Linked DNA regions of Homo sapiens: region 2 is linked to region 1. Evidence: fine-mapped expression QTL. A gene starts in region 1. The other region holds a variant in brackets. All regions are shown on one strand. Distances are from middle to middle.

Region 1 (5,000 bases):
TGACCACAGTGGGAGTTGGGCTTCTGGAGGCTTCTGTAGAAGCTCTTTGGGGTTTTGTTTTAAAAAAAAAGAGAGAACCTTTGCCTCTTTGGCCTGGCTGTGTGATCCAAGATACCACTGAAGCAATGGTGAGAGAATGGCATTGGTGGAATGGGTCTGCTGAAACAGGAGGAGGGTGGAGGGAGTGAGGGGCAGCAAAACAGAGTTGACTCCAGATGATGACGTGGAGGGGCCTTAGGGTGGTAAGGCAGAGAGAAGGAGCAATCCTAACAGCAATGGGGAAATAGGTGAATTTTTGTTGCTCTGTCTGATGGAAAGGTGAGTTCTCAACTGCTGCAGTCATTTTCACATAAATATGTTTCTTAAGGTACACTTTCAGAGTTGAAAACTGTCTATATTTGTAATAATAATAAGATTAGCAATAGCAACACATTTACATAGGCACCTTCCAATTTCAAAGTGCATTTATATACACTATCTCGTTGGTTTAATCCTTACTCTATTTTTACTTCTAAGTATGCTGTGTATTATACTTTACGTTCATTGTCTGGGAATAAGGGCAAGTGTTTAGAATATACATATGTGCATTTGTACAAAGTATATTAGGTTCTGGTTGCATCTACAAGTGTGTATATATATATATATATATATATATATATTTTTTTTTTTTTTTTTTTTTTTTTTTTTTTTCAAGGCGGAGTCTTGCTCTGTCACCGAGGCTGGAGTGCACTGGGGGCAATCTTGGCTCACTGCAACCTTCGCCTCCCGAGTTCAAGCAATTCTCCTGCCCCAGCCTCCCCACACCTGGCTAATTTTTTTTTTTTTTTTGTATTTTTAGTAGAGGCAGGGTTTCATCACGTTGGCCAGGCTGTTGTCGAGCTCCTCACCTTGCGATCCACCTGCCTTGGCCTCCCAAAATGCTGGGATTATAGGCATGAGCCACTGCGCCCAGCCTACAAGTTAATATTTTTAAATATACAAGTATGGCCACCTTAATCAATAAGTGAATTTGGGTTTCTTGTTATAAAAACAAGCCCCATTTTTTTAAAATCAAGAAGAATTCCAGAACTTTATAGTATACACCCCTTGAGAGGAGGGATTGTGTTTTATTCATCAGTCAATAGACACAATTAGGTTAAGAAAACTTTTGAGATAAGTTATAAAATATTGCAACTCCATTAGTTTTTTATGTTTTTATTACTGATAGTGTCTTAGATATTTAACAAGCCTTGATTAACTGCCTTTAATGTGCCATGGATTATGCTTGGTTCTGGGAAATTCAGTTCTCCCCCTACCCAGACACACACACACACACACACACACACACACACACACACACACACACACTCCTGATCTAAAGCTCTTGGCCTATCAAGAAAAGATGGTTAGGTATCTGGGCAGTTGTGTAATACATTGTCACAGGTATACTGTCAGAAGCTTACATTGGAAAGAGAAGGCACAGGAGAAGAGAGTGGTTGGGGTTATCTGGAGGTTGGAGAAGCTGTTCTCAAGGCTTTATGACAGAAGTCATCCTTGAGTGTAGTTTCAAAAGATTATATTTTAAACCAAGTGAATGACATCTGAAAAACATAGCTTTCTTATATTCACTTTAGGATATTAATAACCAATCCTTTTCCTTAAGTAGCCTCTTGACTGGCTAAATGTACCTCTTCAGGTTCAGAGACACATTCTAGAATGTTACAGTTTTCTCATTATGCATTGTATCTGTTCCGTGTTGAAGTACCTGTAGGAAGAAAATTAAGTACAGGTTTTGTGTGTAGGTTGAGAGCTGATCCTATCAAGGGTGTGTCAGAAACCAACCAGCAGAGTCCCCAAATCATTCGAGTCCCTGGCATTCTTTTTTCAAGGCTTTCTTCATTGTAACCGGTTCCTGATGGTAATTGGTTGAATCAGATTTAACAATGCAGTCAGATAAACAGTTGTGGCAGCTGCTGCCATGGCAACGTCACCGTCCTTACCCTCCCAGTGCGCGCCCCTTCCCCACCCCTCCTCCTCCTCCTGCTTTCCTCCAGTAAGTGCATACCCGCTAGTGGTCTGTACAGGCGGCACGGTTTGATGGCAGAGATATTTTCTTTCCAAACTGTTCAAAATGATGAACGAAGATGCAGCTCAGAAAAGCGACAGTGGAGAGAAGTTCAACGGCAGTAGTCAGAGGAGAAAAAGACCCAAGAAGGTAAATCGCCGGAATTAGGAATGTCTGTGTATAAATATGTATGTGTGTGCATGTGTGAGTGTGTAATATCAGCAAGGCTATGGAAACCGTGGAGCATTATGAGTAACTGTAGACGATAACAGTGCCAAGCCTTGCTTTTTAAAGAGGCAGGTGCAAACTGCTGCTTTTTGAGAATAGTAAAGGAGCCATGGCTCATAATGGATACACTGACTGGAGCATGGTGAAGTGAATAGAGATAAGGTGTGTTCCACATGTGGATTACTGAGGACCGTGGCCACTGATGGATTCTTCTGGTGTTAACTGGGTAGAGAGAGTCGTTTTATTTTTAGTGTGTAAAAGGAAGAGTGTTAAGCAACGTGGATTGTGAAGCAAAAGGCAGATTTTTGGCCAGATGCGTTTGCTCTATGATGATCCTGAGATGGCTAGACAGCAAAAGCCTTTTGGTTTCATGCTAAGTGTATTCCTCCTAAGGAGAAAAGACTGCTGTGACAGGAGAAATATCATCCCCAGCATGATATTTCTTTGGCTTGCTTAGCTCCTCTGCAGTTTTCCCAGACATTAGTGTGATAGCTCTTTCAATAATAAGAAAAACAGCTAAAGATGTTATGGGGTGGGGGCTCTTGGGCACACAAAGCAGTCTGTAGGATTTCTTACTGTGGCATACATTCCCACACCCTCGATTTTCATGGAAATGATAGCAGCGAGAAACAGTGGGAAAAGATGCAAACTATTCAGCCCCACCCAATGCCAGCACTTCTTTCTTTATGGCCTGACTCCTTCTGGTAAACTGTTGCAGCCTCACAGAGCTTCCCTGAGCCTCACCTCTGAAAGAGATGCTCTATAAATAAATTCTCCTAAAATGCATTTATTTCCTGGAGCAATAATATGGGCAGGATATTAGATATGATTGTAATGTAAATGGCTTTCAACATTAGATGGTTTTGGATTTTGAATAAGCAGATTGCAAAAAATAATAAGCATGAACAAATGAATATTTTTCATTTTGCTAATGAAGTTGCATTGTGTTTCAAAATTCTAGATGTCTAGTGTACTAAATGTTTTATAATCTAAAGATTGTAAATAATTTGCAACCTCTGATATTTAAAAGATCACTGTATCAGCAAACAAGGGAGTAGTATATTTGTATGGTATCATGCAATTTGATAGAAATAAGCATGTGATGATTTTTAATCATAGCGTAGAGATAGTGATACAATCTGATAACAGGCAAAAGGATAATTCAGGGCAAGCAGGAACATTGGTAGAATGTCCTTTTCCTTTTGTACCTAAGCATTCCAGATCTAGACCTTGAGGGCATTTTTATAGAGTGTTAGCTAATTGAACAACATAAAAAAAGAAAAAGAAAATAGAAGAGAGAGCGCGAGCAAGCAAGAGAGAGGGAAAAAGAAAGAAAAAAAGGAATTTTTGTTTTAATTCACATTATCATTTCAAAATCCCGTATTTTCTCTCTAAAGTCCCTGTGGTGCTTTAGAAACAATATACTCAGGACTATTAAAGGGGTGGAGAATGAATCTTGAGATTTTTGAGCTCTGAATGATGATACTAACTTCACATGACCAAAGCCATTTTAAAGTCTTTGAGGAGGTAGAGACAACGAAATCATCCTATGTAATAACTATCATATCTTTAAGCTGAATTTTCTCAAATAAATTTATTTTAGGAGTAAGTCTTTTTCCAAACTTGCATCCAAAATGAAAGAGCAAGTTTTGAATGTGTGTGTCAGAGCACCATGAATATTGAGTGTTAAAAGGAGTTTCACCTAAAAGAAATTGCTTTTGAAAAAAATGCTAATTACATAATAGATTAGGGGACGCACACACATAAACACACACATACACATCCCTCAGCTTGCCTAGTCAGTCAGACATAAGTGGGTCTGAATCTCAGTTCTACCCTTTAATTTTGTGTGTTTGGAGCACATCATTTAATTTCTCATTTAATGAATCCAGGGATTCATCTGTAAAATGAGAATAATTATATATAGAATATTTTATGAGGATTAGAAATAATGTATATATGATTATTTGAACAGTATTTAAAACATATAGTCAATGGCAATAACTTTCAGGTGTTATTCTCTTAAATGGAATTTGTTTATTGCAATAAGCCTTTTAAGAGAAAAATCTGTTTATACTTTTGAGAGAGGCAGAAATGACAGAATCCAATATTGGTGCTTTGCAAAGGCTAGTAGTCATTTTTCAAAATGTCAAAAGTTATATGCTATAATTGGAAACTTTTTTATCTCAAAAAATCATTGAGATTTACATAAATGTACCTTAGGTCTTTATATTATTGTTTCACATTATTTTGCACAGCAAGAAACTTACATTTTCATATTTAAACACTAGACCATTAAATGTGCCTTGATGAGGACATTAATGATAAAGAGATAAGTATCCCTAATAAGCATAAAAGCTGAGAAAGCAAAAATTGGAGTAAAGTCAATGTCACATCACTTCAATTCGGTTGTTTGTTTTTCTACTAGAGGTTTACATTGAATCTGCTGTGGGATTCTACTTAAGCATCCAGGACTACGGACCACCAAGCTCACTATGGCCTGGGTGTGGATCTATCCTACTGAATCATATTCCTTGAAATCATGCGTCTATCTCTAGTAAATACGTAACAGATGGGCTGTAATTTACTTGTTTATTCTGTACCTTCCAAAAGTACCTCTTCTGAGGGACAGAGCTAAAGGGTCTTTTGCCACCAGACCTACAATGTGAGAAAACAAGCTCAAGGAGGAATTTATTTATGTCAAAATTTTACTGAGTGTGTTGAGAAT
Region 2 (5,000 bases), 86 kb after region 1:
CTATATACTGGACACTGTCCTAAGTACTTAAGATGCACTGACTTATTTAATCTTTTCAGCAACACCATGAGGTAGAAATGATTATAACTCCCTTTTGTCCAATGGAAAAAGTGAGGTTTAAGAAGGAAGGAAGAGGTAAGACCCCAGATGACTTGAATCTGTGCTTCTCCAACTGACCTTATAATGCTATAAAGAAGAGTAGCTGGGATGAAAAATATATATCACCAAGTTACACAAAAATATTTCTAACCTTTCAAGGAACAGACAAACAAAATAGCAGGGGGAGTCTCTGAAGAATTATGATGTGATTTACACTACAGCAAGGTCCCTAATAATAAGATTACAGGAAGAAGGACAGAAGAGCTAGAGTTATCAAGTGCTGAAACCATCTATACTACTAGCACCTCCAATGATCAAAATAGCATCAAGGCCGATTTCTAAGTCTTGGATGTCATCAACAGGAATCTCTTGTTAGAGTAGAAGAGAGGTGAGGTAGGTTCTGGCCCAAAGTATCATATGACTGGCTAGTTTGGAGTTAGTTTATTAAACTGCAATGGAAGTAGCTCTAAAATTTCCTGAAAGTTGTCTTTTTTTTTTTTTTTTTTTTTTTTCTCACTGCAACCACAGAGAGAACCCAAGGACAAAATTCAAAGTAAAATGAAAAAGGAGGGCTACTGAGGTATTACTCACAACAAATACGAAAAGTTGGGGAGTGCATAGAGATCTCTGAATGCCTCTTGTGCTCTGCTGAACAATGAGGCCAAGGATCTGGAAGACATCTTTATACCATAGGAAAATTGATCCCCCCTTATCTTAGTATGGAATAATAATAAACTGAACTATGTTCTCCTTGTTCCAGAGCAAGGACAAAAAAACTACCTTCTACCTTATCAGAGATGTTTTTTTAACACTTGATCTCCAGGTCAGCTAAAATCAAATGTTATTAAAATAGAAAAGGCATATTTCAGTAAAATTGACATTTTAAAATGTCAGTGGTTAATGAAAGCCATAGTCTCTTTTATTGATAATTCTTTTTTTAGGAAGAATTTAGGACAAAATTAAACTGTCATGACATACTTCTTGGTCTACTAAATATTATATGACCTTTGTATTTAGTAAAACTTGACAAAATCAGATTAGAACTTTGCCATGTAGTTTAAGTTATCAAAATATGAAGTCAGATCAATTTTATGACCATAGAAACTTAAAAATTGGAAATTCTAATTTTAGACATTAGAAGTGGCATGACTAAAGTTTTATGGTGTCCATTTCTTCAGGATGCACAATTACTACAGTTAGCATATATCTGAATTACTGATGTTTCACAGTGGCAAAGAATGGAGAGCTCCACCTGGGTATTTGAATGGGTTGTTGGTCATGAACACAAGTAGAAAATGCACATCTTTCTGTGAGTATTTATTGTAGGCTGATAACTGTGGGGTGTTTTTGCATTTACAAGATGCCATATTATTGGTGGCTGTTGTCTCTAAAAGGTTAGCATTTGCTTTGAAGGTAAGACATGTTAGAAGTAAAGATACCTATGAAAAATAAAGAAAAACTGTGGAGAGAGGAGCAGCAAGTGAGTGTCATAGATTAAAGGTAATTAAAGTAAAGTGATGGCCACACAGAGGTGACAGCTGTAAGGAGGATTAGATATCACGGTCAGGCAGGGATCTAGTGATGGATCCATCACTGGAAAAGGGGAACCAATAATGAAAGAATGCAGAGAAGCTCTACAGGTGGAAAGAGTGGAATGAAAGGAGCTTTTCACTACATGTAATACCGTAGAGGCAAATGATGGCCAAACCATAGAGCTGTGTGTGTCTCTCTGTGTGTGTGTGTGTGTGTGTGTGTAGACATTTATGATAAGAGTAATCCTTCTGGACCTCTAGAGAACAATAATTATATTTCCCTGACATTAGCAATGATTACTCTCCATATGTTTATAGTGACACTGATGGATATCCTGAAATATCCATGATGTGATCAACAGTCTTACTCTTACCTCATGAACCATCTTGTGGTTCATGGCTACTGATGCTTTTGTGGCCATTGGCATTTTTGTTCTTTTCATTCCTCCTCATGTTCAGATGGCCACCAACAGATTTGGTGCCTGGACCAAAATCAAACATCTGAAAATATAATTATACAAGAACTGACAGAATAGTAATGTGACCAAAACAAAATCATTTTTAATGGTAATTGGATAAATGACTGCAGATTGCTATTCTCGGAGATTCATTAAAGCATTTCTGTGAGTACATCAGTAATAATATGCATTTGTCTCTTTTTATTTAAATGTTGTGTTTGGGCCTGCGTATAGTGCTGAATGAATATTTGTGAGAAGAATGAAATAAATGTTTGCATAAACCACTCATATTTTAAGTATGTGAAGGAAGTTTTTTTTATTGCTCATTTAGTCAGTAATCAATTATGAGTGCCTGCTATATAGGGGCACTATCAGGAGTACTAGGGACAAACAGACAAATAAAATACAGTGTCTGTTCATAAAAAGACAATTAAAATACAGGGTAACAATCATCCTGATGGCTCTGTGTCCACAGCAGGCTCCTAATCTTGTTGGCCAGGCAGGGCTTCCAAGAGGAGTCTTGCAGATGCTGAGAGGGAGGGAGGTGATCCAGGGGAATAGTTATTAATAAAAGTCCAGAGGAAATTTCAAGGGAGAGAATGCAAAGATGAGATTATGAAAACTGGAATACGCTAGGAATGGTGGTTCGCACCTGTAATCCCAGCACTTGGGAGGAATGCTTGAGTCCAGGAGTTTGAGACCATCCTGGGCAACATGGCGAAACCCTGTCTCTACCAAAAATACAAAAATTAGCCAGGTGTGGTGGTGCATGCTTGTAATCCCAGCTACTTGGGAGGCTGAGGTGGTAGAATCGCTTGAGCCGGGGGAGGTGGAGGTTGCAATGAGCGCCACTGCACTCCAGCTTGGGTGGCAGAGCCAGACCCTGTCTCAAAACAAACAAATAAACAAAAAGCAAAAACTGGGGAAAGAAAGATCAGCTCAGATAGGAGTCCATACCACATTATTAAGGATTTTGG[C/CT]TTTTTTTTTTTTTTTGAGACAGTTTCATTCTGTCACCCAGGCTGGAGTGCAGCAGTACAATCTCGGCTTACTGCAACCTCCGCCTCCCGGGTTCAAGTGGATTCTCCTGCCTCAGCCTCTTGAGTAGCTGGAATTACAGGTGCGTGCCACCAGGCCTAGCTAATTTTTGTATTTTTAGTAGAGACGAGGTTTCACCATGCTGGCCAAGCTGGTCTCAAACTCCTGACCTCAAGTGATCCACCCGCCTTGGCCTCTCAAAGTGCTGAGATTACAGGCTGGCCAGGCTGGTCTCAAACTCCTGACCTCAGGTGATCCACCCACCTTGGCCCCCCAAAGTGCTGGGATTACATGTGTGAGCCACTGCGCCCGACCTAGATTTTCGCTTTTATCTTGAAGATTATAGGGAGTTCCTTGAATAGGTCTGAGCTTTGGAAAGATCTCCTTGGCTAAGGCGCATGACAAATGGATTGAAACAGAGCAAAGCTAGAACCAGTAAACTCTTTAGGAGACAGTTACAGTAATTCAGTCAAGAAATAAATCACTGACCTAAAATAGTGGCAAAGGGATGGAAAAAAGTAGACTCTGCAGGACTGGATGTATGGGAAAGGTAATGTCAAACACTTCAAGATTGTCAGCTTGGGCAGCAAGGTGTATAGGGCTGCTGGTCACTGAGCCAGAGAAGACTGGGCCAGGAGCAGGTTTGAGTAGGGCATTGGCTTAGGAAAGCACTGAGCATGTTTAAATACTAAGGAACTGGTAGAAAAGGAAAACATTTTTTCTTAAAAATATTACTTAATAATTGCTCTTAAAGAAGAAAACCCTTAATTTTTAGAGATATATCTGCATTTTAAATCATATTTATATTCCTTTCTTCTTCCTCTTTCCTTCTTCCTTCTTCCTTCCTTTCTTATCTTCTGGTAGAGAAGATTAATTTTATGTGGACCTAAGTGTGATTTATAAACTTCTGACTGTAAAGATTAAACACATATAAACATCAGCATGAGTGTATTTACTATAGCTTATCATTATACAGATGACAGCACCAAAGTTCAAAATGACAGCTGATAGTGTCCATCTAGAATTTATTTCTAGCAGCATGTAGCTAATAGCAATGGAGCTTAGAGGACATAAGACCACATTAACATAATTTTCGAAGAATGAAATAACAGCATTGACTTTCTAATATATTTATGACTGTATTTCTGGAGTTTTTGATTGCTTATAAAGTGATTTTGTTTTCCAAACAAAAGTAGGGCAAGATTGAAAACTTGAAAATAATTCTCCCATTTTCCAGAGAGAACAAATGATACATATTCAGGGTATTTATTTCAGTATGAATAATATATGAAGGATCATAAATAATTCTTTATACCTTGAAGTGTATAGATACATTTACTCTAAAGAGATCCTGAAATAAAACCCAAGTGAATGAAGTTGGACAATGAAATTCAAGTTCTTTTTGGAGCTCTAAGTTTTCCGTCTTTGAAATAAAATGAATTTAGTCTATGTATCATTCCATAATTGTAGTGCAACTGTTCTTGACTAAATGCACACTCATCATGCTGTTTAAAGTAATCATAATACCATATTTTACAGTAACTCTCTGATGTCGGTGCAACACAACTGGAAGAGCCTAGTTGATTCTGTGTTTCAACACAGTACAAGAAAATCAGTTATCCTCATAATAAATCAGGTTTAATTGGTAATTCTAAAATAAATACTCATATATGCTCTAGTTGAACCAGCATCAGATATTTAGTTTGAACTTAGGTTTGTTATTGACTGATGAATGCCTGGCTGCTGCCTGGAAGTGTATTTTCAATGTCTATGTCTCTTGCTTAATTTCAAATGTCATATGTGTGTATTTTGTAGGGAAAGTAGGATTTTAAAATATTTTGAAATCAATAGATTAAAATATTTGAGTATAGGATTA

Direction of the effects. Positions count from the first base shown, and alleles are read on the strand shown. Sizes are in standard deviations (SD) of each study's normalised expression.
In carriers of allele C in region 2, the expression in pancreatic islets of the gene that starts at base 2,035 in region 1 tends to be higher than with CT alone (moderate effect, 0.47 SD a copy in PISA).

What was found. PIP is the estimated chance that this variant, and not a neighbour inherited with it, causes the effect. A credible set is the group of variants that fine-mapping cannot tell apart.
Region 2: its variant is the best candidate, but not a certain one, in a credible set for the expression of ANK2 in pancreatic islets (PISA, PIP 0.71).

The regions. Positions count from the first base shown.
Region 1 is chr4:113,047,619-113,052,618 of GRCh38, forward strand. ANK2 (ankyrin 2) reads left to right here and starts at 2,035. Exons shown (of 46, transcript NM_001148.6): 1 at 2,035-2,194. The coding sequence starts at 2,111.
Region 2 is chr4:113,133,695-113,138,694 of GRCh38, forward strand. All of the region lies in intron 1 of ANK2 (ankyrin 2), which reads left to right. Among named protein-coding and RNA genes, the nearest start is that of MIR8082, 16 kb to the right of the region's middle. The variant C/CT (reference allele first, on the strand shown) is at 3,067.